Regions from separate parts of the Homo sapiens genome. Here all the other regions are linked to region 3. Evidence: fine-mapped expression QTL. A gene starts in region 3. Each other region holds a variant in brackets. All regions are shown on one strand. Distances are between the middles of the regions.

What was found.
Region 1: its variant is fine-mapped to the expression of RBPJ in whole blood (TOPMed, PIP above 0.99).
Region 2: its variant is fine-mapped to the expression of RBPJ in whole blood (INTERVAL, PIP 0.97).

What each region holds. Positions count from the first base shown.
Region 1 is chr4:26,269,609-26,279,838 of GRCh38, forward strand. It overlaps LOC124900690 (a long non-coding RNA gene), which reads right to left and starts at 5,817. Exons shown (of 4, transcript XR_007058094.1): 1 at 5,552-5,817. It also overlaps a transcript of RBPJ not described here. The variant A/G (reference allele first, on the strand shown) is at 4,106.
Region 2 is chr4:26,074,049-26,084,278 of GRCh38, forward strand. LINC02357 (long intergenic non-protein coding RNA 2357) reads left to right here. Exons shown (of 3, transcript XR_925506.3): 2 at 6,402-6,542. Among named protein-coding and RNA genes, the nearest start is that of LINC02357, 8.4 kb to the left of the region's middle. RefSeq lists enhancers at 884-963, 7,152-7,331. The variant C/G (reference allele first, on the strand shown) is at 4,195.
Region 3 is chr4:26,315,391-26,325,620 of GRCh38, forward strand. RBPJ (recombination signal binding protein for immunoglobulin kappa J region) reads left to right here and starts at 5,624. Exons shown (of 11, transcript NM_015874.6): 1 at 5,624-5,658. The coding sequence starts at 5,639. RefSeq lists enhancers at 3,658-3,707, 4,798-4,847, 6,080-7,001 and silencers at 3,928-4,197, 5,668-5,797, 5,868-5,967.

The DNA of each region.
Region 1 (10,230 bases), 46 kb before region 3:
CTACCTGCCTCCCCCACCGGACTTCACCTGCTCAAAGACAGGGACTCTGTCTCAATTCATTCTTACAGCCTCAGCCCTTTAAGCTTTAGTGGAAGCTCATTAAATGGCTTCTTGAACTAAAACTAAGGAAAAGGAGGAAGCGGTGAGCGGGTATGGGCAGAATAATTTGAGGGAAGGGAGTGAAGGGGGAGGGAGAGGGGTAGAATGACAGAGAAAAGAGTCAAAACTGGCAACCCAAATTACTTTGAGGCCAAACTAGCATTTATTTTTAGAAAGGACCCAGGCCTCAGTAAAAAGCAACACACTTAGGAAAGAGTTAATGAAACATTGTGGAAGAATCTGGCTTATAGGGTAAACTGGTGTTCCTCGCCATGGGAAATTGCTGGTATGGGGCCAGGCACGGCGGCTCAGACCTGTAATCTCAGCACTTTGGGAGGCTGAGGCAGGCGGATCACCTGAGGTAAGGAGTTCAAGACCAGTCCGGGCAACATGGCAAAACCTCACCTCTACTAACAATACAAAGCTTACCCAGGTGTGGTGGCAGTCACCTGTAATTCCAGCTACTTGGGAGGCTGAGGCAAGAGAATCGCTTGACCAGGGAGGCAGAGGTTGCAGTGAGCCAAGAAATCGTACCACTGCTCTCCAGCCTGGGCAACAGAGCAAGATTTTGTCGGAAAGGAAAGGGAAGGGAAGGGGAGGGGAGGAGGGGAGGGGAGGAGAGGGGAGGGGAGGGAGGGAGAGAGCAAGAGAAAGAAAGAAAGAAAGAAAGAAAGAAAGAAAGAAAGAAAGAAAGAAAGAAAGAAAGAAAGAAAGAAAGAAAGAAAGAAAGAAGAAAGAAAGAAAGAAAGAAAAGAAAAGGAAAGAAAGATGAAAGGAGGGAGGAAGGAAGGAAGGAAGGAAGGAGAAATCGGTAGTACACTGGTTACAATGCCAACTCCTGTCTCCACCCTGGACAACTGACTCAGAATCTTTGGGGTTGGGAACCTCCAAAAGTTTTTATTAAGTATCGCAGGCACTAGAGCTTGAAAACCATCCATGTAGTCCTTCCTAGGTGTACTTCATCCCCCTTGATCTACCCAGGTCCAGTTAGCATGGAGGGTTTTTTGGAAGGGGAGGGAGAACTTTCCCTCTACCCTCTGAAGGTTTGATAATTGAGTCTATGATGTAAACTGACAGTAGACAGCTTGACAAGAGACAAGATATACAAATTTATTACATGCACAGGGGTGTCACATGAAAGAAACATGAATAAAATCCGCCTCCCCCCCACCCTTATCCACAGTTTTGCTTTCCTCTGTCTCAGTCACCCACGGTCAACCATGGTTCGAAAATAGGTGAGTACAGTACAATAAGACATTTTGAGGAGAAAAAAACCATATTCATACAACTTTTATACAGTATATTATTCTAATTATTCTATTTTGTTATTAATTATTGTTAAATCTCTTTCTGTGCCTAATTTATTTTTTAAATTTGCTTTAGAGATGGGGTCTCACTATGTTTCCCAGGCTGGTCTCAAACTCCCAGGCTCAAGCTCTCCTCCTGGCCCAGCCTCCCAAGTAGCTGGAACTACAGATGCATGCCACCTTGCCCAGCCTAATTTATAAATTAAACTTTATCATAGGTATGCATGTATAGGAAACATCAGACTATAAGGTTTGGTGCCATCTTTGATTTCAGGCATCCACTGGAGGGCTTGAGACTTATCACCCATAGATAAGGAGGGGACTACTGTACCTCAAAACCTGGTGGATCTAGAGTCTTATATTCCCTCTTCATAAAGGAGAGGGGAGGGGAGATGTAGGTAACTCAGGAGAGATTGATTTGGGGGAAAGATGAACAGGACCTCAGAAGAATAGGTGACAGCCTGTGGCAAAGTCTGTCTGGCTATGGTGTCGAACTCCAGTCTCCTCTCCTGTGATCCCAGTTAATCTTCTCTGCTTGATGAAATTCCCCAGGAGGGGATTCATGACAACTGAGTTCTTTTTAGAGGATCCATCAGTAGGCAGATAGGGAGTTCTGAGAAAGCCTCTGCCTGCATATGCTATGTCCCAGGTGTCCTCAGTTCAAAGTAATCAGCATACCAAAGTGTCATTTTGGGGATGATATTTCCTGAATTCCTTTATCTTCATCTAAGACCTCGCCTTCTATGTGAAAGCCAGATTTATCAACTTTGAAAGACCCATGAGTCTTCAACATACAAACTATGATGTCCTTTCATTCATTCTGCACAGTGTCACTGCCACACACACACGTGCATGCACACGTGTGAGCAACCACATACAGAGACACGTGCGTGCTTGAACATGTGCACAGTGGGCACAGGTATATAGGCACATGGGTGCATACATGCTTGTACCAGCTTCCAGATTTCTGTAGGGCCAGTGCCTTGGGTCACTTGCTTTGTCTCTTAAAAATGTCTCCTGACTAGGGCAGCCTTAACCAGGACTGGGTTGGGAATATTAGGTATAAGAATCAATAGGGAAAAAAGCTTTTAGGGCAAAAATGCTTTGGATAAAATTCCAAAGGTTTAAATTTCACACCTTTGACAGAAGTCAAAGGTCTAGATAAAACCTAGATATATGCAGGAAAGAAAAAGATCTTCTAGATAAAACTGAGATATTTGCAAGAAAGAAAAAATGAAGACGTCATTTTTATTTTCTAAAACTCACTACAGGCCGGGCATTGTGGCTCACACCCATAAGCCCAACATTTGGGAGATCAAGGCAAGAGGATCACTTTAGGCTGGGAGTTGGAGACCAGCCTGGGCAATGTAGTGAGACTCCATCTGTACAAAAAAAATTTTTTTTTAATTAGTCAGGTGTGGTGACACATGCCTGTAGTCCCAGCTACTTGGGAGGCTGAAGTGGGAGGATCACTTGAGACCAGAAGTTCAAGGCTGCAATGAGCTGTGATCATGCCACTTCACTCCAGCCTGGGTGACAGAGCAAGACCCTGTCTATCTCTACAATAAATAAAATAAATAAAAAATAAATAAAAAACAAAACTACAGATTTGGTTGCAGATGAACTTGCATTTTGTCTTCATTTTTTCCAAAGTGATTCATTCTTCCTGGTTCTTGAACACCTGCTTAAAAATAGGGCTTACTTTTCTCTGTCCTTGGGGTGCACCAACCATATTTGAAACCATGAGGTAGGTCTAACACCAGGAAGGGGGTGATGGGATGGAGGAAAGTCCTATTGGATCTGCATAATGTACTCATTGTTTAAAACCATACATTGCGCAGAAAGCTGTGGTTAGATTTGTGGTGTGAAACAGGGAACTCTGCAACTCTCAAGCAAGAGTTTCCATGCCTAAGGTGAATGTTTACATTACAGACGCTGGAATCCCTGTTAATACCTTAGGTGCTTTTTTTTCATGAAGACTGTATTAAGTTTGAGATTTTCTTTCACTCCAAGTTTTTCAAAACAACAGACCATAAAAAGGAAGTTTCAACCAACAAAATTGACTTGAAATAAAAATTGGCCTGTGTGTCCCAAGTTTACTCATTTGCAGGACTACCTTTTGCTGTCTCCCACTTCCCTTCCTCTCATTGCCTCAGCCTCTTTTTTAAGTTCCTAGTCAGTTAAGGCACATTTCCTGATTTGGCAAACACCACCCCTCCACCTCCTTTTTCTTGGGTAAAACTTCCTGAGCTGACATTAAAGAGAACTGTTACCTCACCCGAGAGCTTTAGGAGGAAAATGGCATTTAGGTTTTATTACATAAAGCCCCACAGTAGTTACCACTTTATAAAATTCAAATGACTTTTTTCCAAGCTCCCAGTTTTCCAAAGCTGTCTGCCTGGCGACCTCCCAGAGGGCGAGATGCCTCCGAGGGAGCGTGGAGCGGGCCTCCCGGCCTTGGCAGGCAGCTAGGATGAAGATCTTTCCAGCTCTAGCTGCCTGGAAGGAAACTGGCAGCAGAGAGCAGTATCTATGTCCGAGGCCATTCTGGAATCTAAGAGGAGGGCACAGATTCCAATGGCTCAGGGAAGAACCACTCTGTATCCCACTTGCACCTAGGGGTACTAATCTTTCTGCAGAAGAACCTAGCAGCGGGGCCTGGGAGCTCTTTTCACTCAACTGCCTCCCTCCCCTCCTCC[A/G]CTTTCAGGAAGAAGTGGGGAAGTGGGAGGTCTGTTTGCATCACTGGTAACCACAGCCATTCCCGGTGCCCCTTGCCGCCACCCTTCCAGTGCTTGGTATGCCAACGGTTCTTCCCTCTTCTTCTTTGAAGCTGAACGCAGCCAAGACACAGTCATCGCCATTTGCATCTTCCTGGGAATCCGATTAGGCCCGGCTTTACTTCTCCTGGAGGTGTCTGTGTCTTCTCTGGTGTAGAGGAAAAAAAGTTTGTTCTTCTTCCATTCCCCTGCTGCCTATGGGTCTTTGCTCAGATGTCACCTTGTCAGAGAAGTCTTTCCCAACCACAGGTGTGGCCTCAACCCCAGATATATGCTTTTCTACTTCTCTGCTTTATTGTTCTCCATAACACTTCTCACCTCCTAAAATACTTTGTACATGTGTTATATTTTACTGCTTCATTTGATTTTCTGCCTATCTTCTGCCATCTGCCCCATGCTCACACCCACACCCTGCATCCCGAGCACCCACAACAGTGCCACATACATAGTAGGCGCTCGATAAGTATTTGTTAAATAATGAATGGATTTGAGACTTTCTGAAACCCTAAGGAAGATAAGAGAAGGTATGATTTTTGATTAAGAAAAATGTTTCTGGCCAGACACGGTGGCTCACCCTTGTAATCACAGCAGTCCAAGAGGCTGAGGCAGGAGGACTGCGTGATCCCAGGAGTTCAAGACCAGCATGGGCAACACGGCAAAACCCTGTCTCTACATAAATTTTTTTAAAAATTAGCCTGGCACAGTGGCATGTGCCTATGTTCTCAGCTACTCAGGAGGCTGAATGGGAGGATCCCTTGAGCCCAGAAGTTTGAGGTGGCAGTGAGCTGTGGTCATGCCACCGCATTCCAGCCTGGGTGATAGAGCGAGCGAGACCCTGTCTCTCAAAAAAAAAGAAGAAGAAGGCTGGGCACAGTGGCTCACACCTGTAATCCCAGCTCTTCGGGAGGCTGAGGCTGGTGGATCACATGAGACCAGGAGTTCAAGACCAGCCTGCTCAACATGGCAAAACCTCGTCTATCGAAAACACAAAAATTAGCCAGGGGTGGTGGTGCACATTTGTGATCCCAGCTATTCGGAAGGCTAAAGCAGGAGAATTGCTTGAACCCAGGAGGCGGAGGTTGCAGTGAGCTGAGATCACGCCATTGCATGATCCTAGCCTGGGTGACAGAGCGAGACACCGTCTCAAAAAAACAAAAAAAGAAAAGAAAAGAAAAAAGAAAGGAAAGGAAAAAAGTTTCTAAAGTACCAGGGCTAGAGGAAGGGATTAGAAGCCATAAAGGAAGATAGCATTCATGGGATAGGGAGATGGCCACATTGTCAACTAATATTTGTAATAGACTAGTGAGATGTCATCGTCCCTATTTCATAAATGAAGCAACTGAGGCACAGAGCATTTGCATAACTTACCCAAGGTCACACAGAGGGAAAGTGAGAGACGGCATCAAGGTGTGGAACCGTGCTCTTTTCACTGCTGTCCCCTGACTTCTGCTTAGACCAAAGCCTGGTAATTTGACATCCTCAGCAGAATCAGATGCATAAGCCCCAGATTCAAATCGCAGCTCTGCCACTTGCTGGCAGGGTGACTCTAGGCAAGGTTCTGGGCTCCTATGGGTAACTGTTTTCCTAGGAAGATAATGAAAAGGGAGGACCTAGCATGCTATGAGTCTACTTATGCCTCCCAACAGGCCAGTGGGGCAGGAAGGGAACAAGTATTACTAACACCGGAAAAAGAAATTAAAACCCAGGGGGACTATGTGACTCGGGTGTGGCTAAGCAACATGTCAAGTCAGTCGCCGGAGAAAAACCATCCAGGAAAGAGGTATCTTGACATAACACAACTGTCAACTTCTCTCCAAATCATAGGTTTTTTGTTTTGTTTTGTTTTGTTTTGTTTTTTGAGACGGAGTCTCGTACTGTTGCCAGGCTGGAGTGCAGTAGCGCGATCTCGGCTCACTGCAACCTCCGCCTCTTGGGTTCAAGCGATTTTCCTGCCTCAGCCTTGCGAGTAGCTGGGACTACAGGCGTGCACCACCACACCCAGCTACTTTTTTGTATTTTTAGTAGAGACGGGGTTTCACCATCTTGGCCGGGATGGTCTGGATCTCTTGACCTCTCTGCCCACCTCGGCCTCCCAAAGTGCTGGGATTACAGGCGTGAGCCACCGCAACCGGCCCAAATCATAGTTTTTATGGCTGAAAAAGGATACTTAGTGACATGCTAACAGCTTTAAAGCTATTGTAGGCTGGGCGTGGTGGCTCACGCCTGTAATCCCAGCACTTTGGGAGGCCTAGGTGGGTGGATCACTTCAGGTCAGGAGTTTGAGACCAGCCTGGCCAACATGGTGAAACCGCATCTCTACTAAAAATACAAAAATTAGCCGAGCATGGTGGCACATGCCTGTAGTCCCAGCTACTTGGGAGGCTGAGGCAGGAGAATCACTTGAACCCAGGAGGCGGAGGCTGCAGTGGGCCAAGATTGTGCATGCAATCCAGCTTGGGTGACAGAGCAAGACTCCATCTCAAAAAAAAAAAAAAAAGAAAAAGAAAACATAAAATAAATACATAAAGCTGTTGTAAATTTTAAGTTTCTACTTTTAAGGTCTCTGATTTTAAAAACACTTCCCTATGGTAACTAAAACAAAGCTTCAGAAATTGTGGATGTTAGATGAGATCTGGGTTTTTGCTTGGGCAAGGCTTGGTGGTTGTGACGTTGCATGCTACATGTCCCAATGAAATCGCCTCCTTGAAAAAAACACAATCCACAGAAATCTATTGAAATGCAATCTATGGAAAATCTAACATGGCCTTGGGCCTCAGGCTTGTTCTTCCATTGCTGTCAACACAGTGAAATTCTGTCCCTGTTGATTACTCTTCTGTTTCCATGGGCTTGCTGATTAAATGCTATATGTATAACACTTTGAATCATTTAAATGAGAAAGAAAAAAAATCCTTCTCTTTTCTTCACCATGACATTAGAGCTACAGGAGTGACTGTCTGATATTAACTGAGCACATACTATGTTAAGAAAGCAACCTTAAATAAGCAAACTCAAATTGTATCTTTGAAGAAATTCTTCTTTCTGTCTGTTTCCTTTGTAGCAAGGGCGGAGTCAAAAACTGCCTTTCTTCTTCAACCTGTGAAATCAGATTTAAATGTATTTATGTATTTATTCTGGCTAGATGATATTCTCTTTGCTGGCACGGAATAAACTAGTCATAGAATTTTCTGTAAGTGAAAAACCTGGCTGGGTGCAGGAGAATCACGCTCGCCTATAATCCCAGAGCTTTTTGAAGCTGAGGTGGGAGGATTGCTTGAGGCCAGGAGTGGGGACCAGCCTGGGCAACATAGTGAGACCCCATTTCTAAAAAAAAAAAAAAAAATTTAAATTAGCCAGGCATGCTGGTATGAAGACTTAGAAGGCTGAAGCAGGAAGATGCTTGAGCCCACGAGTTCAAGGCTTCAGTGAGCTGTGATCACACCACTGCATTTCAGCCTGGGCGACAGAGCAAGACCCTGTTTGTTCAAAAAAAAAAAAAAAGTCAAAAGTCAAAAAAGCTGAACTTGAAAAAATTTGGTTCTGATCCCTCTCTGTAATGCTAGCACTCATGAAAAATTCAGCATTTGTGGAATTCCTTAGTTTATGATTTAGGAATCTCCACCTGGCTCCTCACCCCCACCAGATACAAGCCTCTCTCTTCTCTTGGGACCAGGACGAGGCTGCAAGCCTGAGCGCCACAGGGCTGGGTTCTTCAATGCATGGCCTTGGTGAGTTATCCTGGGGAGTTTTGTAGGGAAAGTGCCAACCCGGCCAAGCTATAGGTGCCCAGGAAAGCCCTGATTTGTGAGTGGATGGTGTGTTGGACACACAATCTCGAAGGAGTGGCAGGGGCCTATTCATTTCCTTTGCAGGATTTAAAACTAAGATGGCAGTGATGGAGGAACAGATGGCAAGTGTTAGTCAGAGGGAGAGACTTAGTATGCTCATATGGGCTCAAATTTTTTCATGAGAGAAATGCTCTCCTGACCCTCTCTAGCCCCAAAAGTCCAGAGGAAGAATTTTGCAAGCATGATTAGTGTTTTTAAATGTATTACTCTCTCCCATAGGTTTCTATCGGGCTTTAAAATATTCGATTCAGTGTCCATCTAATCTTTACAAGTTATTTTCACATGTGTCAATCAATGCCTTTTTTCCAAGTTGCTGCTTATTCCTCATGTATATGTGTGTGTTTGTGTGTGTGTCTTGCCTTCTAAGCTAGCTCCTTTGCTGAATATTTATTGAGCACCTATTATGTGCCAAGGACAGTATATAGTAGTATGAACGCAAATGCCGTGGCATTGACATTCTGATTAGGAACTCTTCGCTGATTCTGCTCCTTTACCTTCTCTGTGCTGCCTTTGCTTCCCAGTTACTTTATAACATATACTTCATATTCATCTTCAATTTTTCATCTAAAGATAGGATGCTACATAACATTTTCAAAAAAGTAAAGTCACGTCTGTCATGAAGATATAAAGTGAACCTATGCCAAAGATTTTAATTTATTAATTTATGAGGGATCCAGAAAAAATGTTAAAACCAATTCAAAGGACAATTTGAAAAACAGATATATATGTAGGCAATCTGGAATGTTGCAATGAATTTACTAATAGGTACAAAATTGGCTGATATCTGATAGAAAAAATATGTAGTGTTTTGGGTCATTTACTGGGTAGAAATCAATTGCATTACTATCAGATAAAATTGATGTGCATATTCAAAACAAGAATCATTTGAATAACTATGGACAGGACACATCTGCATTGCTATCGGTTTTCTACAACTTAACTTCTACACCTATAGGATTATGAAATAGACTAATCAATCCAAGATAATCAAAAGTTTCTATTCCTATAGAAGCAGATAATTCCCAGACTATCTCCTAAGACACTCAGGGACTCTACTGAAATAACACTCAAAAATCTCTTTTGCCCCTTTACAAGTCTTTATAATTTTCCTGACAGGGGCTTTACAAGGAGAAAATTAAGCTCAACTCTTGTCAGTTTCTAGCAGATTTGAAGTAACAATGATTAGTCCGTTTTAAAAATAGCTTTTGGTGGGAGTTCCACTTACATGATATCTGGCAGGCATCAGGAAGTTTGGCTATGGGATGGATATATAAGGTTCTAAGGAGGCCACAGTGCCTGGTGGCTAAGGGTGCTGCCGTGGGAGCAGGGTGGTTGTGCTCCTGTATGATCTTAGCTTTCTCTGCACAATTTCCTCCTTTCTAAAGTGGAGAAAATAACAGTAGCTATTTCATAGGATCATGTTGAGAACTAAATAAGATAATACACATGAAGCACCCAGCACAGTGCCTGGCCCACAGTATGTACTCAATAAATGTTAACTATTTGTTTGAAGAAAATGTCTGTTACAGGTGGTAGTTTCAAATGAATACCAGTAAATTCAATCCAGTTGGGCAGAAGAGAGGATGATGCTGTGAGCCTAGCCACTTATAGAAAAGGGCAAGTTTTGCTGCACTGGCTGCTGTTTGATATTTTCTTTTTTTTGGAGACAGAGTCTTGCTCTGTCACCACGCTGGAGTGCAGTGGCACAATCTCAGCTCACTGCAACCTCCGCCTCCCAGGTTCAAGCAATTCTCCTGTCTCAGCCCCCCGAGTAGTTGGGACTACAAGCGTGCCCCACCACGCCCAGCTAATTTTTGTATTTTTAGAGACGGGCTTTCATCATGTTGGCCACGATGGTCTCAATCTCTTGACCTCGTGATCCACCCGCCTCGGCCTCCCAAAGCGTTGGGATTAAAGGCGTGAGCCACCACGCCCGGCCTGTTTGATATTTTCAATGTTTACACAAATTCCCGTGGTTGCTTACATTTGCTTTTAATGTAGGATGATTCTAAGACCAGTCCAGACAAGCGGTGACGAATTTCAGTAAAACTTCCTAAGAAGATGGCAGGTTTTTGCATGCCACAATTAAAACTTCTCATTTCAGGCAGAGGGAGGTAAAAAGGTTTTTGTGAGTGAAGTTGAAATTGTCTTTTTTTTTTTTTTTTTTTTGAAACAAGGTCTTGTTTTGTCGCCCAGGCTGGA
Region 2 (10,230 bases), 240 kb before region 3:
CCATTTGAGGCTGGGGGTCCCGCAAGTCATAAGTGGTGGGGTCAAGATTTGAACTCATATCTCTGGGGCTCTTTCCAGTCCACTGTCTTGTTTTCTCCTCAAAGTGCAGCAAAGACAACAATTAGGTAAATGGAGGCCTTCCTACTTGAGGCTTTGTTAGCAAATTGAGGTTTTTCTGGCCTGGCCTGGGATTCCGGAAGTACAGGGGACAATTGTTTATGCTGCTGTTGGTGATTTCACATTTAGATGATGCAGACTGCTTGTTTTTCTTTCTTCATAGTACCTTTTCCCTCCCAAGCACTTAATCACCCAAAAGACGGAAACATCAAGGGTAGCCCATTTTTATACAATTCTGGAAAATGCTTGGGGCAGGTGGGAGGAAAGGGTGAAACGACTGGCAATGTGGTTTTATAGAAAGAGCGTGGGCATCAGAATCAGACAGTTCTGGGTTCAAATCTGGGTTTGTCGCTTCCTATTTGAGTAAACATTTAGAAGTTAAAGGTCTTCATCTGTAAAACAGAGACAATACCGTCTACCTCTCAGCGTTACATGAGAAACCTTATTTAAAATCATCAGTCTTGAAGAGGGCTCAATGACACTTAGTGTCCCTCACTTTGGCTGATCCTTTTTGGATTATATGAGAATTTTAGCTATCTATATTTTGCTATTCATTCCTCTTACAGACAACCCTCAAGTCAACTCAGAAGCAGGTCTTGTTTCCATGGAGATGTATTTAAGGTAAACAAATGTGAAAAGGGGAAGCACAGACGCCCATCCCCTACACCCACTCACGGCCAATGCACCATCTCAGCAGAAATGTTTCCAAAGAAATGTTTCACAAAGCTTTCGGGGAAGGCCAAGGGCTCTTTCACAGTCTTGACATGCTTTTTCATTGTACGGCTCTTGAAATGAACAATAATTCGAAACAGATAATAATGAACTTCACACAGCAATGGATCAAAAGTGGAATTACTGAGCTCAGCATTGTCTAGTATAATTAGGCTGACATGCTGCTGAATCCAAATGGATGGCTTTCCGACCCCCACTTTTGCATGTGCACATTTATTTGCAGAAGAACTTTTAATGGGCAGAATATTACAAGATTTCTGGACCCCATGTGGTTTCAGTTCTAATCCAAACAGCTTACTTTCTTCTGAAACTCTGATTTTCCTTCCTCGCTTTCTTCTTTTTTTTTCTTTTGGCATCACTATTTTGGAAATTTCAAAGGAGAATTGGTTCCTTGAATGTGCATGGAAATATAAGCACATAAATCACATGCTGAATTTACTTAACAAGGAGCAATAATCCCACTGTCACTTCCCACTGAACAATGCCTTTTTAGGAAAAAATGCTGCAAATCCTTTAGAAGTCCAAATCCGATGCATCCAATCAACTCACTTTTTTAAATTCCACAAAATAATTTCTCTGTTTTAAATAGCTTATTAAACACAACAGCAATCAGATAATAGATATTTCTTAATTAGACCTAGCTTTAGATCTCTCTTCAATCATGGCAGACAGCAGACTAGCTAGTCACTTTATAGGGCCATAAACATTCATTTCAAAGTCTAATAATAGAGTGGTTTCCTCTATTCTCCCTCTAACACAAGGGCCAATTTTTGTCGAGTGAAAATCAGCCCATGTCTTACACAAGACATCTGTCCTCAAGATGTGACACCTAAAATGATAAAGCAGAAATATATCACCAAAGCCAACAACTTATAAAATTATGGCTAACAAGACTAGACAATCTTGTTGTTGCATCAACCACAAAAAAGAAAGAGAAAGGGCATTTAATATAGCCTTTATTAGTCACTTTATTAGTCACTGGTACCTGTCTTGAATTTTCCAAAGGCTCTAACAGAAGAATTAACTTGGCCCATTTACAGAACCACAGGCAGAAGATTCTGCACTATCAGGGATATCCATAGTGGTAGCAAGAACGATTAGCAGAATGTCTAGATGTCCCTAAGCAGACAGATTAATGCCGCCATCCTCAAGGTAGGCTCTGAGCTGCTAGCTAGAATGATATAAGGAGCTCTGGTTAATACAGAGAGAAGGTCCCAGCCAATAATTACTAGCATTGCTGGCCCCATCCATCCACATTAGATCCAGAGCGGAGAATGAAGTTGAACCTTAGAATCCTTCCCATTGTCATGCAAACAAATCTGTTAGATGAGATCTTAGAAGCATTGAGCAGCCCCCAAACCATAGAACTGCCAACCTTAGAGGTGGAAAATTGTAGAAGAGGAAACTGCAGCTGAAGGTGGTGAAATGACTCGCCTAAGGTCACAGAGAAACCACACCACCCTTCACCACTTGTGACTTGAATGGAAATAGTCTTTTTCTGACCAAAAAAAAAAAAAAGAGTGAGTACACTGTGTGTCAGCAAATGTTATGCCACATGCAGCTAGATCATTGCCCAACAAAGGAAATGTGGATTCACAGAACTAGCTTCCTACTTTGAACACTATTTTTCCTGTAATCGGGTAAGGCTGGGGGCAAATTCTGGTCAAACCCTACAAAGATAAAGGGAAGCTCCATGTTTATAGATGCATGAACTGTAGGCCTAGTGAAGACTTCTCAATCATTTATCAATCCAGTATTGATTGGGGCATGCCCAACATGGGGCAGGTGTTTTGGAAAATATAGAAAAAGCGTAAGACATAGCCTTTTCCCTTAAGAAAAATTTAAACAATGTAGATGATTCTTAGAGATCAAGTGCAAAGATTAGATATTGATGATGATCCCAAAAGGCATTCAAAGATGGGAGAAATCGCAGGGTTTTTCACAAGTCAAGGATGGCTTGACCGACCTGAGATCTGTAAGGGACCTTGAAATCTGGATTGTGTAGAAGGATAGATGTAGGGGAGAGAAAACCTGGGGATATCTAAGCAGGAACAAAATTTCTGAGGTTGGAATTAATATGGCCCCAGAAAGTCTGGTCAAGACACCTAAGTGGCCTAGAAGTTGGTTTTAAGGGCACAGTGAAAAACAACACTGAACCCCGAGGGAAAGCCATAACAAGTGACTCACCAAATCATTTGGCCAAAGCAACACCAAACAAAGCTCAAGAGTCAGACCCATTTCCTTGAAGACTCGTCTCTCTGGTATGCTAAGAAAAATTAAATTTGCAATTTTCGGATGTACATATGCCAGAATTATCAAAATGTCGTGGATTCTCCTTCATATCATGACTAATATCCTCACCTCTGTACAAAATAGAAAGTTGGCCTGAGCTGTAAGAGGAAGGATTGCCCCTTTCTACCACCGCTCCCCAAGAGGAAATTGACTAAATAGTTTTGGAAGCCATTTCTAGACCCACAAGACCCTAATTCAAGAAAATAAGGTGTTGCCAAAGGTATTAAATATCCAAGAAACTATCCGAATACCTTTCTATGCTTTTGAACATTCCTTCTCTCTGACCTTAAACATGCGCTTAAATATATCAACTCCTTTCATCTGAAGGTGTGCCCGCACATGGCCTTTCTAATATTACCTCCAATTTGGGGGGGCAGAGGATAAACGGACAAGCTGAGGAATTATAGAGCCACCTAAATGGGAGGCTACTTCAAGGTTAAAACATGGCATGCCCAAACGCTTGCTGTACACAAAGGCTATTTATAATAGTTCTGATTTTAAACTTGGATTTATAATGAAGTTCAAGGCAGAAAGAGCAAAATTCCATACTGAAGAAAAATTACAGCTGGAAAAATCATTTGAAAAAAAAAAAGAAAAAAAAAAAAAACAAGAAAGCCTTCCAAGTGGTTACTCAATTTGGGAATTTAGAGAAGATGGCAGTTTGTGTCCAAGAAGAAACTACTTTTGGGGAAATGGAAGAGTGGAAAGTCTTGCCTTCAGTCTATTTTTGTAGCCCTGCCTCCAGCCATGCACATAACTGAGTCAAGGAAGGGCATTCCTCCCCACAGCTTCCAAAAAGGCGCATGTGAACAGAGGCACCTGGTCACACTATGGTGAGCCGAGTGCAAAAGCTTCAGGCAGCGAAGGGCAGTGGGAGGGGAGATATTAACTTGCCTCTGGCCTTTGGTGCCCAGCAAACCTGTGCCCTGCCTGCCTGTCCAGCCTGCCTGTGCCTCTCCAATCTGTGTTCCAGCATCTAGCTCCAGGTCACTCAGGAGTTGCGTGTGTTAGAGGGGGTGGGACAAGGTGATGTGATGGATAGAAACTCTCTTC[C/G]TCTTCCTCTCTTACTTTGTCTTAAGTGGGAAGGAGTTTTGGGCTTGCGGGGAATCGTTGCTCAGCATGCTTGCTTGTGCTCTGTAGGTTAAAGCGTTTAACTATAGGGTGGCAGGTGGTATCTATCTATGTACCCACTTCTTACCTCTCTCTAGCAGATGAGCCTCCAGAGCACAGCACTCATTTACTCTGAGCAAAGACTCAACTCCAGAATCCTTCCCAATCCAGCAGTCCAGGCTGTCATTACTAATCAGAATGGGCAAGTGGTTTGCAACTCATTTGCCAAGGTAGAGAAAAGAAGAGCAGGAAGAAAGAGGAAAGTAACATTTTCTGAGCACCAATCATATGCCAAATAGTGGCATGTCAAGCGGGTGGGGAAGTCAGCCTCGATGGGGAGGGGACAGGTTATCACTGGCATTGCATAGTGAATATAAAATGACTTCGATCATCTTTACACTGGGCTCAATACTCCATGGACAATGCACCCTCATTGCCACTCCCACTGTCCCCTCCGCCTTCCTGACTGCACCACCAGGACCAAGAACAGCTGGTGGCCCTTTCACAGGGCTTGCCTTTCCCAACAGCCTGGTGGTGTGGCAAGGACTTGGAACCATCCCTCTTATACTGTTAAATCCCCTGTTGAGGTCAGACTGTGCCTCAGTTTCCTCACTTGTAAAGTGAAGATAACAAAGCTGTACCTTTCCTAGAGGGCTGTAGTGAGGGCTAGTGCTTCTGCAATTGTGAGAGGGCACAAAACCTGGCATATAGGAAGAACTGTTAAATGTCAATTTTCCCTTAAGTTACCAGCTGAACTGGGCTGCCCCTACCTGAGTTTTAAGATCATTACAATAATAATAATAACCAATTGTAATATACCACATAGGATTGTCTGGTTTAGAAAAACAGACAGGATACTCAGTCAAATTTGAATTTCAGATAAGAAATGAGTAATTTTTAGTATGAGTATTTCCCAAACATTGCATGGAACATAGTTATACTAAAAATTTATTTATTTTTAATCTGAAATTCAAGTTTAACTGAGTGTCCTATATTTTATCTGGCAACACTAACATCAAATCTTAAGGTGTGTGGAATAAACAAAGGCATAACTCTTTGGAAATAAAAATGTCACACTGAAAGAAATGTTTCTCCAAATTGATTTTCAAACTTTTTCCAGCCACATTCCACAGCAAGAAATACATTTTGCATCACAGTGCAATACACACAAATGTGTATTAACTGAAATCAACATTTTACAAAACCTTTTTTGTGTACAGTATATTCTGATATTTTGTCTCCTTCATTCTACTTTATCTTATTTCTTTTTAAAAAAATTCTTTGTCCAGTATCACTTAACTGATTTCATGACCCCCTTAATTGAGGGGTCAACAAATTATGGCCCAGGGCTAAATCTAACTAACCACCTCTTTTTGTAAGGCTTGTAAGCTAAAAATGTTTTTTACATTTTTGGCCAGGCGCGGTGGCTCACACTTGCAATCCCAGCACTTTGGGAGGCGAAGGTGGGCAGATTGCATTAAAACCAGGAGTTTGAGACCAGCCTGGCCAACATGGCGAAACCTTGTCTCTAGTAAAAAGAGAAAAATTAGCTGGGCATGGTGGCACATGCCTATAGTCCCAGCTACTCTGCAGGCTGAGGCAGGAGTTGCTTGAACCTAGGAGGCAGAGGTTGCAGTGAATTGAGATCACACCACTGCACTCCATACAACTTTTTGAGACTCTGTCTCAAAAAATAAAATAAAAAAGATAAGATAAAAGTTAAAAAGATAAGATTAAAAATTTTCTACATTTTTAAGTGGTTGGAAGAAATCAAAAGGAGAATGATATCTCATGACTGGTGAAAATTATATGAAATTCACATTTTAGTATTCATAAATAGTTTAATTACAGGACAGACACGCTCACTTGTTTACCCATTGTCTTTGATCATTTTCGCACTACAGTGGCAGAGTTGAGCAGTTGCGAGTTGAGAGTTGCGTGTTGAGTACAGCCCACAAAACCTAAAATATTTACAATTTGTGCCCTTACTGAAAAAAAATTGCCTACCCCTACCCTAAAGGGTTGCAATTTGCAGTTTGAAACGCTCTGTTCTAAATGGTTTTGCCCCAAAAGGATTCATTTCTATTCATGTGAGTGAGCAGTTTTTTTAACAATGTCAAGTTAACCTTACTCTTCTTATTTCCTCATAGGATAAAGACAGAGGAACAAATACCAGACCAGCAAACTTACCTGAATCCAGCTGCCCTCAGAGTATGGCTGAGGCTTGGTCAAAGCCCAGAACTTAGCAAGGGTTAGAGGACATCATGGGACCATATTCCCAGTCACTCCAGGTATCCACTACTCACAGGGAAGGGAGGGATTATGAAGAACACAGAACAAATGTCAAGTTCTTGACTTTGAATCATTTAGGCTCTTGACTCTTATTACAGAGATTGGGTGGGTCCTCCATAGCCAAGGTTTGTGATAGAAAAGTGTGATCAAATCTAAAGGCTAAGCCCCACGTAAGCACGACATAAAAGTTTATACTACAAACAAGAGAATGGAAAGAGAGGAAAGGATGGTTGCTCTAGCTAGGGAAAGAGGAGAAGGGAAGAAGAAGATGCTGACATAGCCCTGAGGGGTCCTGCACTTTGCCTGCTCCCTCGTCTTGTGATTTTCTGAAGTGGGGTAGCGGGTGATAAATCATCAAGATAGGTTTAGTAATGCCAAGACCTGAGAATGTGTGCCCTGATCTACGGGAGACGCCTGGAGTTAGGGGAGAACAGCACAGATACATACCGAGATCATCAAGGGCCCTGAGGGCCAAATGCAGCATGCCACTTCCTTTTGTAAGTGAAGTTTTATTGGAACACAGCCATGCCCGTTCATTTATCTATTGCCTGTGGCAGCGTTTGTGCTACAGTAACAGAGTGGAGTACTCATCTAAAATACGTGCTGTCTGGCCCTTTACAGGGCATAGTTTGCCATCCCCTGCGTTGTATGCTGGCCATAGTGGAGAAGAGAGCGCAACAGAGCAAAGCAGTGGGGAGGCCCCAGGAAAGCCCCCGATCTGTCACAGCCAGGCCCATGTAAGAGAGCATCCTAAAGTTTCCCTTGCTCCTGCCTCCAAAATGGGCACAAAATGGCCAAAAGAGGGCCGCAGACCTGAGCAGAGCTTGAGGTTGGGACAAGAAGATACAGTGGAGATGGAGGGCTTTCTAACAATGGAGGACTTGGCAGCCTCCAAGTATGGCCCCTGGGTGCCACTACGCATAGGTGCTGATGGCCAAAGACCAGGTCTGCTTCAGGCTAAGGATGCCTGTGGACCATACCACCCCATCCCTCTCTCAGTCCCCCAGAACCCCGTTTTCTACACCTACACCATCCTATATTTCCAGGATCTTACCAGCAACCCCAAGAAGAAGGGAAGGGCATGAAATTTTGAATTGAGTGACTGAAACCGGCATGACTGCATAAACACTGAAGTGAGTGATTTTTACCAGGAAGACACTATATATTAAGTTTCCTGCCACTAGAAGAATGTAGACTTAAACTAGAAATTAGGTTATAGAAAAATGAAGAGGTTTACATTCTACATAGCCGATAGGAAGAACAGGAAACTGACTTTGTTGCTGCAGGAAATTGGAACTTCATTCACAGCAATTCTGAGACCACAGAAGTTGAAGTCCTTATGGTTCATGACTCAATGACTCCATACCTACTCATTTTTCTACCGACTTCTTTCTAGAATAAGACAGTTTAAAGCAGTCCAAATCTTCCGGAGATTTTTCCCATTCTACCTGCAACTCCATAAAAGGAATCCTGTACAAGTCTAAATTTTCACCAGTAGGTGGTGCTAACACAAACACTACACTGTACTTATCTGAGGATGAATTAGCCAGACACTAATTAAAGCTCTCTGCATTAGCACTTTTCTCTACAGCGCCTTCCCTCTGGTCTAATTGAACTTTGTTATTAAGCAGTCCCTGAGTGGTTTCACCTCAGGGCTAACACTCTCTCTCTGGAGTGGTATAATGGAAAGAATTCCAGCATTAGGAAACATGGGGTATGGATTTTGGCTGTCTTACTAATTAGATGAATTCGCCAAGTCACTTAATCTCTCTGAGTCTTAGGATCTTCATTTTTAAAATAAGTGAGTTGGGTTTGTGGGATGCTTGTTTTCCAGGTTTGAGAAACAATTCCACAACCGCTCTTCTCCCATCAAGCTAATACATTTTGAGGAAAAACTCAAGATTTCAAGAAATAGGCTCTCGGACACAATTCTGTGGGGGAGGTAAGAAGTCTGTGGCACAGACTTTCTGTCAGGCAATTTGGCAATGTATAGCGGCAGTCCTAAAAATGTATGTACCTCTTGACCACGAATTCCATATCTGGGAATTCATCTCAAATAAATAATTACAGGCATGTGCAGATATGGAGCCAAGAGAACACTCTATAATGCAGTGCATGTTGACTTTGTTGAGAGCTCAGTGTATCTTCGCTAACCAGTTTCTGAACTTCAGATAATCCTTAGAACTATATTATAATCCTTGTATAAGGCAACAAAGCAAACTATTGCTTAATCATACAATGAAAGGAAGAAGTAATGAACGTATTTTGTGTGCCACACACCAAGCCAGACACTTTTCTTAAGTTCTTTCTTTAAATATTCTTACAATAACCCTATGGCGAAAAGGTATTATTAATTCTATTTTATAGCTAGGGAGTCCAACACTCAGACCAGTTAACCTTCTTGATCAAAGTCACCCAGTGCTGATTACTGGGAGAAGAATTGCATCTTCTACTTTACAAAGATCAAGTTCTCTGAGGGCTTGGGGAAAGCTTTCCCTGTCATGGAAGTAAGAGGAGGGAAATTCAGTAGGTGAACTTTGATTCTGCCTCAGAATTGGATCTGGGCTCTTGGGCGTCTTTGAGGAAGAACTGCAATTTCAAAGCTTCTGCCAATTCTTTGTGCTGCTAAAAATGGAAACCCAAATTAGTCTGTGGGGGCCCCGCTTTCTGGTGGAGAAAACGTTCTTAATTGAGCTTTTATTTGTGCAAAAGGAAATTCCGTTCTGGGATGGGAAAGCCTAGACAAGGAAACACTCAAGCTCTGTGTCTACCAAAGTAAAAGAGTGAGGATTGTACCGATGTTAATGGATTTGGGGCTTCCACTGGTAGACAGAGGGAAGAGGCTGTGGGGGCACGGCATTCAGGGAAAGAGAAACACAGTCAATGCAAACCCCGGTGTGGAGGTAAAGACGGCATAGGAGCACACCTGGCAATGTGCTGGGAGCCTGAAGGTGAAGGAAGACCAGTAGGAATTGGGTGGGATGAGATTTGACCCAAGGACTTGGGGTATGGTTGGTCATGGCTGACACTGAGCTTCATTTTTCCCTCTCTGCACTGAAATTTTTTCAAGCTTTCAGTTGAGCCAGAAAGCCTCATGTTAGCATTGTCTTGGGGTGAAGGGAGGCACTGAATCCATTGGATCAGGGACACACATCCAGGTGGAGAAATGGTAAGTGAATGCCAAGACTGTGTCTACATTCCTTGGAAGAACCCTGGGCTTCCTGAAGCCTCCTGGTTTGGAAGCTGGAGTTCTTTTATTTGCATATATATATATTTTTTACAAAAAGGATGGTCTTGGAAGGTTGTCATAAACTCAGGGACACAGGAGTTCCGTCTCATTGTTATATTTCAGGGACTGAGACTTAAGATGTTCTGCAGGACAGCTGAAACCATGGAGAAGGGTGCTTTTTAACAGGGTTCACCTGTTCTGAGGACTCTGCGACCACAAGCACTTGGCCGCTGTCAGCAGGCTAGGTGATTACAGCATTAGATCATGCCTCTAATGGGAAAAAGGCTTCTCCTTTCTGGCTGACTAATCAGCTTGCCATTTTTATTGCATGATCAGTATCAAGAGCCAATGATTTCTGTCAGCTCCCCGGGTGCACACTAGCATGACAGAAAGAACAGCTATATTAGCAAAGAAAACAGGTGGAGAGATTAGCAAACTCACTTAAAAGGTCAAGACAG
Region 3 (10,230 bases):
GCAAGTTTTTATTAAGGATTTCAAAAAGGGAGGGGGTGTACGAACAGGGAGTAGTTCACAAAGATCACATACTTCAAACGGCAAAAAGGAGAACAAAGATCACATGCTTCTGAGGAAACAGGGCAAGGACAAAAGCAAAGATCACAAGGCAGAGGGCAAAATTAGAATTACTGATGAGGGTTTATGTTCAGCTGTGCACGTATTCTCTTGATAAACATCTTAAACAACAGAAAACAGGGTTCGAGAGCAGAGAACTGGTCTGACCTCAAATTTACCAGGGCAGGATTTTTTCCCCACCCTAATAAGCCTGAGGGTACTGCAGGGGACCAGGGCATATTTGAGTCCTTATTTCAACCACATAAGACAGACACTCCCAGAGCAGCCGTTTATAGACCTCCCCCCAGGAATGCAATTCTTTTCCCAGAGTATTGATTATCAATATTCCTTGCTAGGAAAAAAATTTAGTAATATCTCTCCTACTTGCAAGTCCATTTATAGGCTCTCTGCAAGAAGAAAAATATGGCTTTTTTTGCCCCACCCCGCAGGCAGTCAGACCTTATGGTTGTCTTCCCTTGTTCCCTAAAATCGTTGTTATTCCGTTCTTTTTCAAGGTGCACTGATTTCATATTGTTCAAACACACGTTTTACAATCAATTTGTACAACAGTGGTCCTGAGGTGACGTACATCCTCAGCTTATGAAGATAACAGGATTAAGAGATTAAAGTAAGACAGGCATAAGAAATTATAAGAGTATTATTAGGGAAGTGATAAATGTCCATGAAATCTTCACAATTTATCTTCCTCTGCAGTGGCTCCAACCAGTCTCTCCGTTCAGGGTCCCTGACTTCCCGCAACATATATATATATATATATTCATATATATACACATTCATATATACATATACACATATATACATTCATATATACATATTCATATATATACATTCATATATACATATTCATATATACATTCATATATACATTCATATATATACATTCATATATACATTCATATATATACATTCATATATACATTCATATATACATTCATATACATTCATATATACATTCATATATACATTCATATATACATATTCATATATATATTCATATATATTCATATATATTCATATATATATTCATATATATATTCATGTATATATTCATATATATACACATTCATATATATACATTCATATATATAATATATATATACACATATTGATATATATATACACATATTGATATATATATACACATATTGATATATATATATATACACATATATATATATACACATATTGTGTATATATATATATACACACACACACATATCCGGCTAGTGGTGTTTTTGTTGTTTTTTTCCTGAAGTTCTAAAATGGAGAGTAAAGGAAACTCTTAAGTGCAGCCTCATCTACTGGTCTAACCCAGACGACTTTTTTTTTTTTTTTTTTTTTTTTTTTGCAAAAAACCAACACAGGTGGTTGCTCCATATGCCTTTTTCTCCTCCCTAGGCAGGCTAGTACTCACTGCTAGTCTAGTCCTAATATTGTTTTGAACCCTAGGAGGCTTAGTCTTCAGAATCATTTTTACTCTGCCCTAAAGTGGAAGACACCCCATTCATTCTACAAATATAATACAGCAGGCATTGTTCCAGCAGCTAAGGCTTGAATAATGAACAAACTAGACAAAAGTCCTTGCCCTTATTAATATTACATTATAATGGAAGGAGGCAGATAGTAAACACAACACACAAGTATGATAAATGTTATGTTAGTTAATGATAGGTGCCATGGACAAAATCAAGCAGAAAGGGGGATAAGGAGTATGGGAGTCCCTCTTGGGAAGGGTGTCAGGGAAGGCCTCCCTGAGGAGGTGACATCAGGCAAAGACAAGAAAGGAGTGAGGGAATGAGCTATAAGGTATATGAGGGAAGAGCATTCCAGGTAGTGGAAAAAGCAAAGGCTTGGAGCTGAAAGTGTGCTTGGGGCATCCCAGGAACAGTAAGGAAGGCAACTGGTGAGAGCCCACAGAGTGAGAGGTAGAGGAGGAGGTGAAGGCAGATAGATCAGGGGGGGTTTGGCAGTAGGCAAGATTGTCTAAGTCCTCATAGTGAAATGGGAAAGTCATGGAGGAGTTCTAGAGGGCCACTGAGAATGCTCTATTAGCACAGACTGCGGGAAGACAAGAACGGAAGAAGGGAGGACCAGTTAGGGAACTTCCTTAAACCAGGTGGGAAATAAGATGGGTTAGACTAGGCTAGTAGCTAAAGAGGTGTGACAGTATTTGGAATGTGAGTATATTCTGAAGGTGGAGCCAATAGGATTTTCCGTCCAATTGTATCTTGGGTGTGAGAAAGGAGGCAAGGACTCCAAGGTTCTTGACATAAGTGGAAGAATGGAGTTGTCCTTTCCTGAGATGGGGGAGGGCTGCAGATGGAGCATGTTTTAGGGCAAAAAGGGGGAGCTGTTATTCCCTTTGTGGTTACCATGGCTTCCCAAGGTCGCTGGGGCTCTCAGAAGGCCATGATTCCAAATTAGATCAGTGGTCTGGACTAGGCCATGACTGAAATACCTTCTTGGGATGACAGCTCCAAGGAATATGTGCCCCAAGGGCTTTGTCCTCCTCCTGAGCTATCCTGTTCCAAGCCAGACTTGCACTGAGATATTGCACCAAATGGTTTTAAGTCTGTTTTTTTGTGTATATAATCAATAGGCAAACACAAACACACACACACGCACACACACACACACACACACCCCTAAAACCTTGAAAACAACTTAAAAACCAGGGTTTCCTATTAGAGAACTCACTGTCCTCCAAATATCAAAATTCAATTCAACTCTACATTTGCGGGGCTGTGACGTGAGCAGGAAGACACTGGTTCCTAGATAATGCCAGGCTAAGGCTGGTATAGAAACCACATCAGGGCCAATCTGAAACGTGGCTGATTGAAGAATTTACGTAATCAGGAACTCATTGGATGAATGATCCAAAAGGAAGGGCTGCATTTAAAACAGTAGTCACTATAGCACCTGCCGCAGCCATACGTAAAATGGAATATTGCAATAAAAATACGGAAAGGTGACGGAAAGCAAAAAAGCCATATTAGTGGGAGGAAAAAACAGAAACTGATTTGTAAGATTACTTCAAAAGGCTAAGAAGAGACTGACAAGAAATTTTAAAAATCGTGTCCTTAAACGGGAGCAAGAATCTATACAAGGCAACAAGGCGAGAGCGCAGAGCTGTTTATTTATTTATTTATTTATTTTTCTACCCAGCTCACAGGGCCAGCGGGTAGATTAGAAAGAAAACAACCAATTGCTGCCAGGCGCGGTGGCTCACACGTGTAATCCCAGCACTTTGGGAGGCCGAGGCGGGCGGATCACGAGGTCAGGAGATCGAGACCATCCTGACTAACATGGTAAAACTCCGTCTACTAAAAAATAGAAAAAATTAGCCGGGCGTGGTGGCGGGCGCCTGTAGTTCCAGCTACTCAGGAGGCTGCGGCAGGAGAATGGCGTGAATCCAGGAGGCGGAGCTTGCAGTGAGCCGAGATCGCGCCACTGCACTCTAGCCTAGGCGACAGAGCAAGACTCCGTCTCAAAAAAAAAAAAAAAAAAAAAAAAAGAAACCAATTGCTAAAGTAGAGTAGCTAAGGAATCAGAACTTGTTTCAAAGTAAGCGAAGTAGTGGCCAGACTAGGTGACTCAAGGCATGACTCAAACCCGACTCTGGAGGCTGTCTGTCAGCTCCCGGAGGCGGGGGGCGCGGTGTCTAACACGTTTTAGGAAAGTACCAGGCTTGTGGAGGGCGACAGGAAACCTCCCCGGGAGATCGGCCTGGGGCTCCTCCTGCCCTAGAGCCTGACCTCTCACTCTCCGTACCGGCAGCGACTTCCAACCTCCTGGCTTCCCCTTCCTCCGTTCGAGGCTCCCCACCCCTCGTCTTCCATCCAGCGTCACAGGGCGTGTGCGTGTTGTGTGCGAGACGCGGGTCTCCTCCCCCGCCGCCCTCCGCCCCGTGCTCCCAGCCACGCGCCTTCCCGCCCCGCCTCCGCGGCAAGCCGCTCCCTTCCCACCCCGCCCGCGCCCGCCGCCCGCCGCCCGCCTCCCGGGCACGCGCTGCACGAACGGCGCCCGGAGCTGGTCTAGGCAAACACCTGTCCTGCCTTGGCTCCGCGAGATTTGGGGCGAAAGCTTAGGCAACAGGGGCACGTTCTCGCGAGGTTTAGGAAATTTCCCACGGCCGTGTTGTGTCTGAGCCGAGTAGTGGAAGGCGGTGGGAAGGAGGTGTAGCGTGAGACTGGACTGCCCGCATTGGGTACATGCGCAGTGCCGCTCGCGCGGGCCGCGCCAATCCTGCAGCGCCTTCAACAGGTTTCGGGCGGCGAATTCCAGTTCTCCGGGTTTTGGGGCTCCCTGCGGGAGGCAGTGCTGGATCTGGGAATCTCTAGGAAAGGAAAGAGCAAAGGAGGGGAAAGATGGGGGGCTGCAGGTAGGAGGAGGGGGCGGGATTCGGGCCCTTCACCCTGCTGTTCCATGCCCGGTGGGGCCAGGTTTGCCCGGGGGCTTCCGGGATCAGGCCGCCTGAAGCGCGATTCGGGCAGCCGGCAGCGTCCTCGGCTGTGCCAGGCCCTCGGGTGGCCCGGTTCCCTGTGCAGTAGTGGTCTCAACACACACCTGGGCTCACACACGGTGGTGGCTGCGATGGGGTCTTAGAGAGGCCATGCAGCACGCGAGCGGCAAGAGCTTTGATCGGGTCCTCTGGGCAGACTCGGAGGTGGGAGAATGTGGCTCTCAATTCCAAGGCAGTTTTCCCTTCTGGAGAGAACTACTCCGCGCTCTGGCGTGTGTCTGCGAGGTGGCCATTAGGGGTGTCTTTGCTAGAGGCCTTGGCTTGACCTCATTTCACACCCAAGGAGAACGCTAAGGCGAGAGAGCTCAACTGCAAAAGTTTTCCGCTTGAGGAGCTCTGGAAGGGCCTCCTCATTAGCATGGGGGGGTGTAATGAATGAAGACAGTCCCCGACGTGTCACTTGCCCGAACCCCAGACATCTCTGGCGCTCCTGCACCAAACGCCGAGATTAGCATAAAGGAGGCGCCCAGGGAACGTTTGAATGAATGAAAATAGCTGGGAACCCAGAGTGAGCGGGAAGCCGCTTGGAAAACACCCATTGAGGAGGTGTTTCATCTAGGCCTGTGAAACGCAGCCCATTTTCCCAGGACCCCTCCTCCCTTCTCCTCGGCCCCGCCTCCTGACCCCTCCATTCCTCGTCCCCGTAGTAATCCCCTCCGGTTTTCCTCAGTCTCCACGTACGTCCCTCAAAGCGCGTCCTAAAACCCGGATAACCGGAGCGCTCCCCATGGACCACACGGAGGGCTCGCCCGCGGAGGAGCCGCCTGCGCATGCTCCATCGCCTGGGTAGGTTTCCAGGGAAGGCAGCGAGCAGGATCCCCTACTCTGCGGGCGGCGCGAGGCGTCTGGCTCTTCGCGGCGGCGGCGAGGGGAAAGGGAGCGCGGGGGCTGGGTGGAATCGAGGAGTGAGGAAAAAGGGAAGGGGCGGGGGAGAGGGACCAGGGAAGGCGTCGGGGGGAATCTCGCGAGGGTTGGAGTTTTGGCGAGAGTTTGTGGAAGATGGCGCCTGTTGTGACAGGGTAAGTCTGAGGGAATCGGAGCGCCGGGAACCGGGAAAGTTGCGGGCGTCTGGCAGCTCACGGCGGGCAGCGGGTTCGGGGGCCGCGGCGCGCTTGGCGTTCGGGGGCCCGCGGGGGCGGCGTCGCGTGCGCCGAGCGCGGCGGCGGCGGCGTGTGGCCGTGCGCTGCCGCTCTGCGCTGCCGTGGCTCAGGCTCCAGCGCGTGAGGGCGGGCGGCGGCGGCGGCGGCGAGGCCGGCGGGTGCGGGCGTGAGTGCGGCAGGGCGCGCGGGGCCCTCGGGCGCCGTGCCTCCCGCGCGCCTCCAGCGGGCTCTGCCTGGGGGCCCCGTGCATCTTTGTTCCTCGCGGCCGTTGTCGCCGCTTCGCCCCGCTAGTGCCCCCGGCCCCGGGCGCTTTGTCTTTCACCGCTACCCGCTGCGACTCTCTACCCCCGGCCCTTTGTTTCGCCGCCTTGGGCGCTTTGTCCGACCCGTGGCGTCCCGCATCCCCTCTCCATCTCCTCCCCTCCGCTGTCCTTCCTCCCGTGCCCCTTTGTTGTGCCACACTCTTGTCGTTAGCCCAGTGACCTGCCACAGCCCGGGCACCAGATTTCTGCCTTAATTGTTCTTCCATTGTCTTTCTCCTGTGGGTCCCCTCTCACCTTTCTGTATGGTCCTGGATCACCCCCCGAGGCTTTGTCTCCCCCATCCACGGGCTTATTCTCTCGGCACCCCCTTCCTCTCCCGTCATCGGTTGATTTATCCACAACCCACGGTGTACGTCTGCTGAACTGTCTCAGCCCCGGGGACTCCATCTGCTGCTTCTAAGTGCACACAAGACTCTACGGTTTGTTGTTTTGTGGGTCTGAAAGATGCATGGGATACTTAGTTTTCTCCTCCGCACCTCTTTTTCTCGGGATTTCTTGTACCCTCCCGCCCCCCTATCGCCACCCCTTTCTCTCGGGATTAAAGCGTCTCCAATTTTCATCGCCGTCTTTTTAGTGCCGTGGGTTGTTTTGCTTGGAAACAGTAGCCTTGGAAAAAGATCTGGTCTCTTGGTGGTTCTTGCGCCCCCCGGCCCCCGCCCCCCTCCTGGTTCCTGACGGCGTAGGCCAAGGGCAGCTGTCTGTCGAAGCTTTGCAATCTAGGCTGCCTGAGGATGATTGGAGGGTATCGTAGGACGGTTAGAAGGAGGCTCAAGATGTATATATGTGTTTTTCTGTTAGTGTTTGAGAATAGTTTCAGATAGCCACAATGGATATTCATTTGGCGTGTGAGTAGGAGTTGAGTGAATTTCCATGTTAAAAACTTGTGAGTGTTGGGGCGGAGAATTTCAGCATTTTCTAGAAATCTGGATTTAGAATTTATCAGTAACTTCTGCCTCATAAGGAAAAGGAGAGGCATTCCGCTTGGGAATTTTATATAAATGTTTTATTTTTTCTTAATCATTAGATAGTTTACAGTTATGTGCTTTTTGCTGCCCTGTAGATGCGTGACAACCCTTCTGTCCCATCATTGGGGTTGAAATGAGGACAGCACCGAAGAGTGCAGTTTCTGGTCGATGAATACTGCTTCTAAGATCTTTGTGGAAGATATTAATCAAATGCAGTTAAAAAGTATACGTATAATATGTATATTATATATATATATACACACACACACGTAATAGCCTGTAGTGAGATTATTTTAAAGACACTTCCTAGTGTTAAAGAACCCTTGAAGTGTTTCGAGTTCTTATTGTTTTGGTAATGCTAAAAGCTTGGGGTTGTGTGAATGGGGGTGGGGGGTGTGGTGTGATGTATTCTAATGACTTGAGTTATTCTGGGTGCTAGGAATAAGAGTTATTATATTTACCAGGATTACTATGCTGAAGGTATTCTTCAAGAGTTTGTTTTTTTTCTACTGGTTGATCTCTACTTTTAGAAGGTATGTTACCCATAAAATCATTTGGAGTGTCATTTCATTTACAAACTGAAGTTCTACAATAGTGAAGTGTTGTTGATAGGGGACATACGAGATCTACTCTAACGAGTATTGGAGCATTGGAAAATACTTTTTTTTCTGGCTGTGATTAGAATTAGTAGTTTGAGTTTTAATTAATGGAAAACCATGTTTTCATGATTGATACATAAGTTTTTTTGTGAAAATCTGCAGTCTGGGTCGCTTGAGTGGGTTTTACCAATAATCTTATGTCTCCCTTACTTGTTCTTGTACATAATCATTGTTTTGAAGGTAAAATCTTGAGCTCACTGGTTCTCTGACTGGGAGCAAAGTGTAAATACTGTGTAGTAATGGAAGGTATTTTGCTCTGACTTGTACCTGTAAGAATGATTACACAGACATGATAAAAGCGCTTTTACCATTTGAGTTGCGTTTTTCTTTCTAAATCGTGTAATACTTTTACTTACATGATTGGTGAAATAAAACTGCTTTTAATTAAATTATAACAGCAGCATATTTCGAAATCTGGATGCGTTGTGGCTGGAGAACTTTCATTCTGAGTATTAACTGTTAAAGCTTTAAATTTTATTATCCATGCATATTGCTGATGGATCTGTGAGTATATTTTCAGAAAACAGGAGACTTGCAATATTTTCAAATCTGTACTAATACACACTTGTAGGCATTAGATTTTAAGCAGTTAGGTTTGTTAAAAAGTTATCTGTTGTCCTATACCAACAGATTTCTATCAATGTTTTTTTTAAGTGGGTAAGATCAAAATTGGTTTGGTTGACAGGCCATTCTTGCCAGATGTAATTCATTAAATAACCTTTGGCACCCTTGATGGGTAAGGCATTAGGAAAAAATTGTTTCGTTTGAAAGTTATTATACATCTCATTCTTCTGTTCATTTTTAGAAATAAGACCCAGGACTTGGCTTTAAAGCATTATTTTGCATTTTGCTTCCTCCTAATACTAAATTTCATGTTATCTCAACTAGGGGCAGTATTTTCTCATGGATTGACTAAAAGTTGTTATTTTTGGCATCTGGCTTTGTGATTATTTCCAAGTTACTCTACTTCCCCTGGGCCAGTTTCCTAACTATGTAGTAAAATGGGAATTATAATAACTTGCCACATCTGCACAGGATTGCTGTGCCTTAAGATTCGCAGAGAGCATCCTTGGATGAAAACTGTGGGGAAGGTCTAGGAATTGTTACTGAAATAAGCTAATGTGAAGTAGGTCATATTTTATAGGAAGTCAAATAGGAGGTTTTTAAGTTCTTGGCAAGACACAGTAGCGATAGTGGGATTTTTTAAAATCCCAAATATGTATTATAATATGGGTAATAAAACAGATACCTTTATTCCTGCCCCCCATAAACTTATAGGGAAAGGGACAAATAAAACAAATTACAGGGTGATGTGTCGTGTGTGAGTGTGTGTGTGTGTGTGTGTGTGTGGTGTAAGAGATTGAAGTTCTGTCAAACTCAAATGTAATAACATTATAAAATTATGGGATGCCTTTCCTCTTTTGTTTTCTGCATGTAGCAATATTCTATTTATTTATTTTATTTTATTTTTTGAGACAGGGTCTCACTCTGTGGCCAGGCTGGAGTTCAGTGGCACAATCTTAGCTCACTGCAACCTCCACCTCCTGGGTTCAAGCGATCCTCGTGCCTTAGCCTCCTGAGTAGCTGGGATTACCAGCGTACACCATCATACCTGGCTAATTTTGTATTTTTAGTAGACATGGGGTTTCGCCATGTTGGCCAGGCTGATCTCAAACTCCTGACCTCAAGGGATCTGCCCACCTTGGCCTCCCAAAGTACTGGGATTACAGGGGTGAGCCACCATGCCTGGCCTGCATGTAGTAATATTTAACAAATGGTAGTACAACATGCTTTCACTGGACTCTAAGCCAAGTCTGTTAATAGCAGTGATTAATTTTAAATATGCCTTATATTTTTTAGTGCTTTGTTATTTGCTCTTAAGAATAAATTCTAATAACCATGACTATAATTTCAGATTTGACTCTTGGCCTTAGAAAAGTGTTTTGCATTTGAGGAGCACTCTGTAGATACGTATTGACTGAATGAAACCTGTTGCTTCTCTGTTCTTGGTAGATGATACCATATTCCGTTTGGTTCCCAAAGCCACGATTCCTAATTCCTCTCTCACCAGCCTTTACATTTAATTACTGAGAACTGATCATTTTTCCTTCTAAAAAATCTCTTGAATTTGTTTCCCTTATCCTCACTGCCGAAGTTCATGCTGTCATTTCTCACCTGGTTTACTATGACGTACTGACAGCCTCTTTCTGCTTCTAGAGTCACCACCTTTATCCAGCTTCTACATGTAGCAGAGCAGTCTTTCTAAAGAGCAAATCTGATCACTGCTTAATCTAAAAACCTTTCAATGGCTCCCCCTAGCAGCGTTCATTAAGAGAGGCAACAGAGTGGAGGGTTATGAGCTCACATTTAGTGTTTAATCTGAACTGGGTTCCAATTCTGTCTCTGGCACTTAAAACCCCTGCCAGTTAAAACCCCTGTAACATTGACAAGTTAATCTCTTTATCAATTGCAAGATAATTATTCCTAACTCAGAAAGTTGTTGTGAAGATTAAATGAGATAATGTATGAAAGCATTTAGCAGAA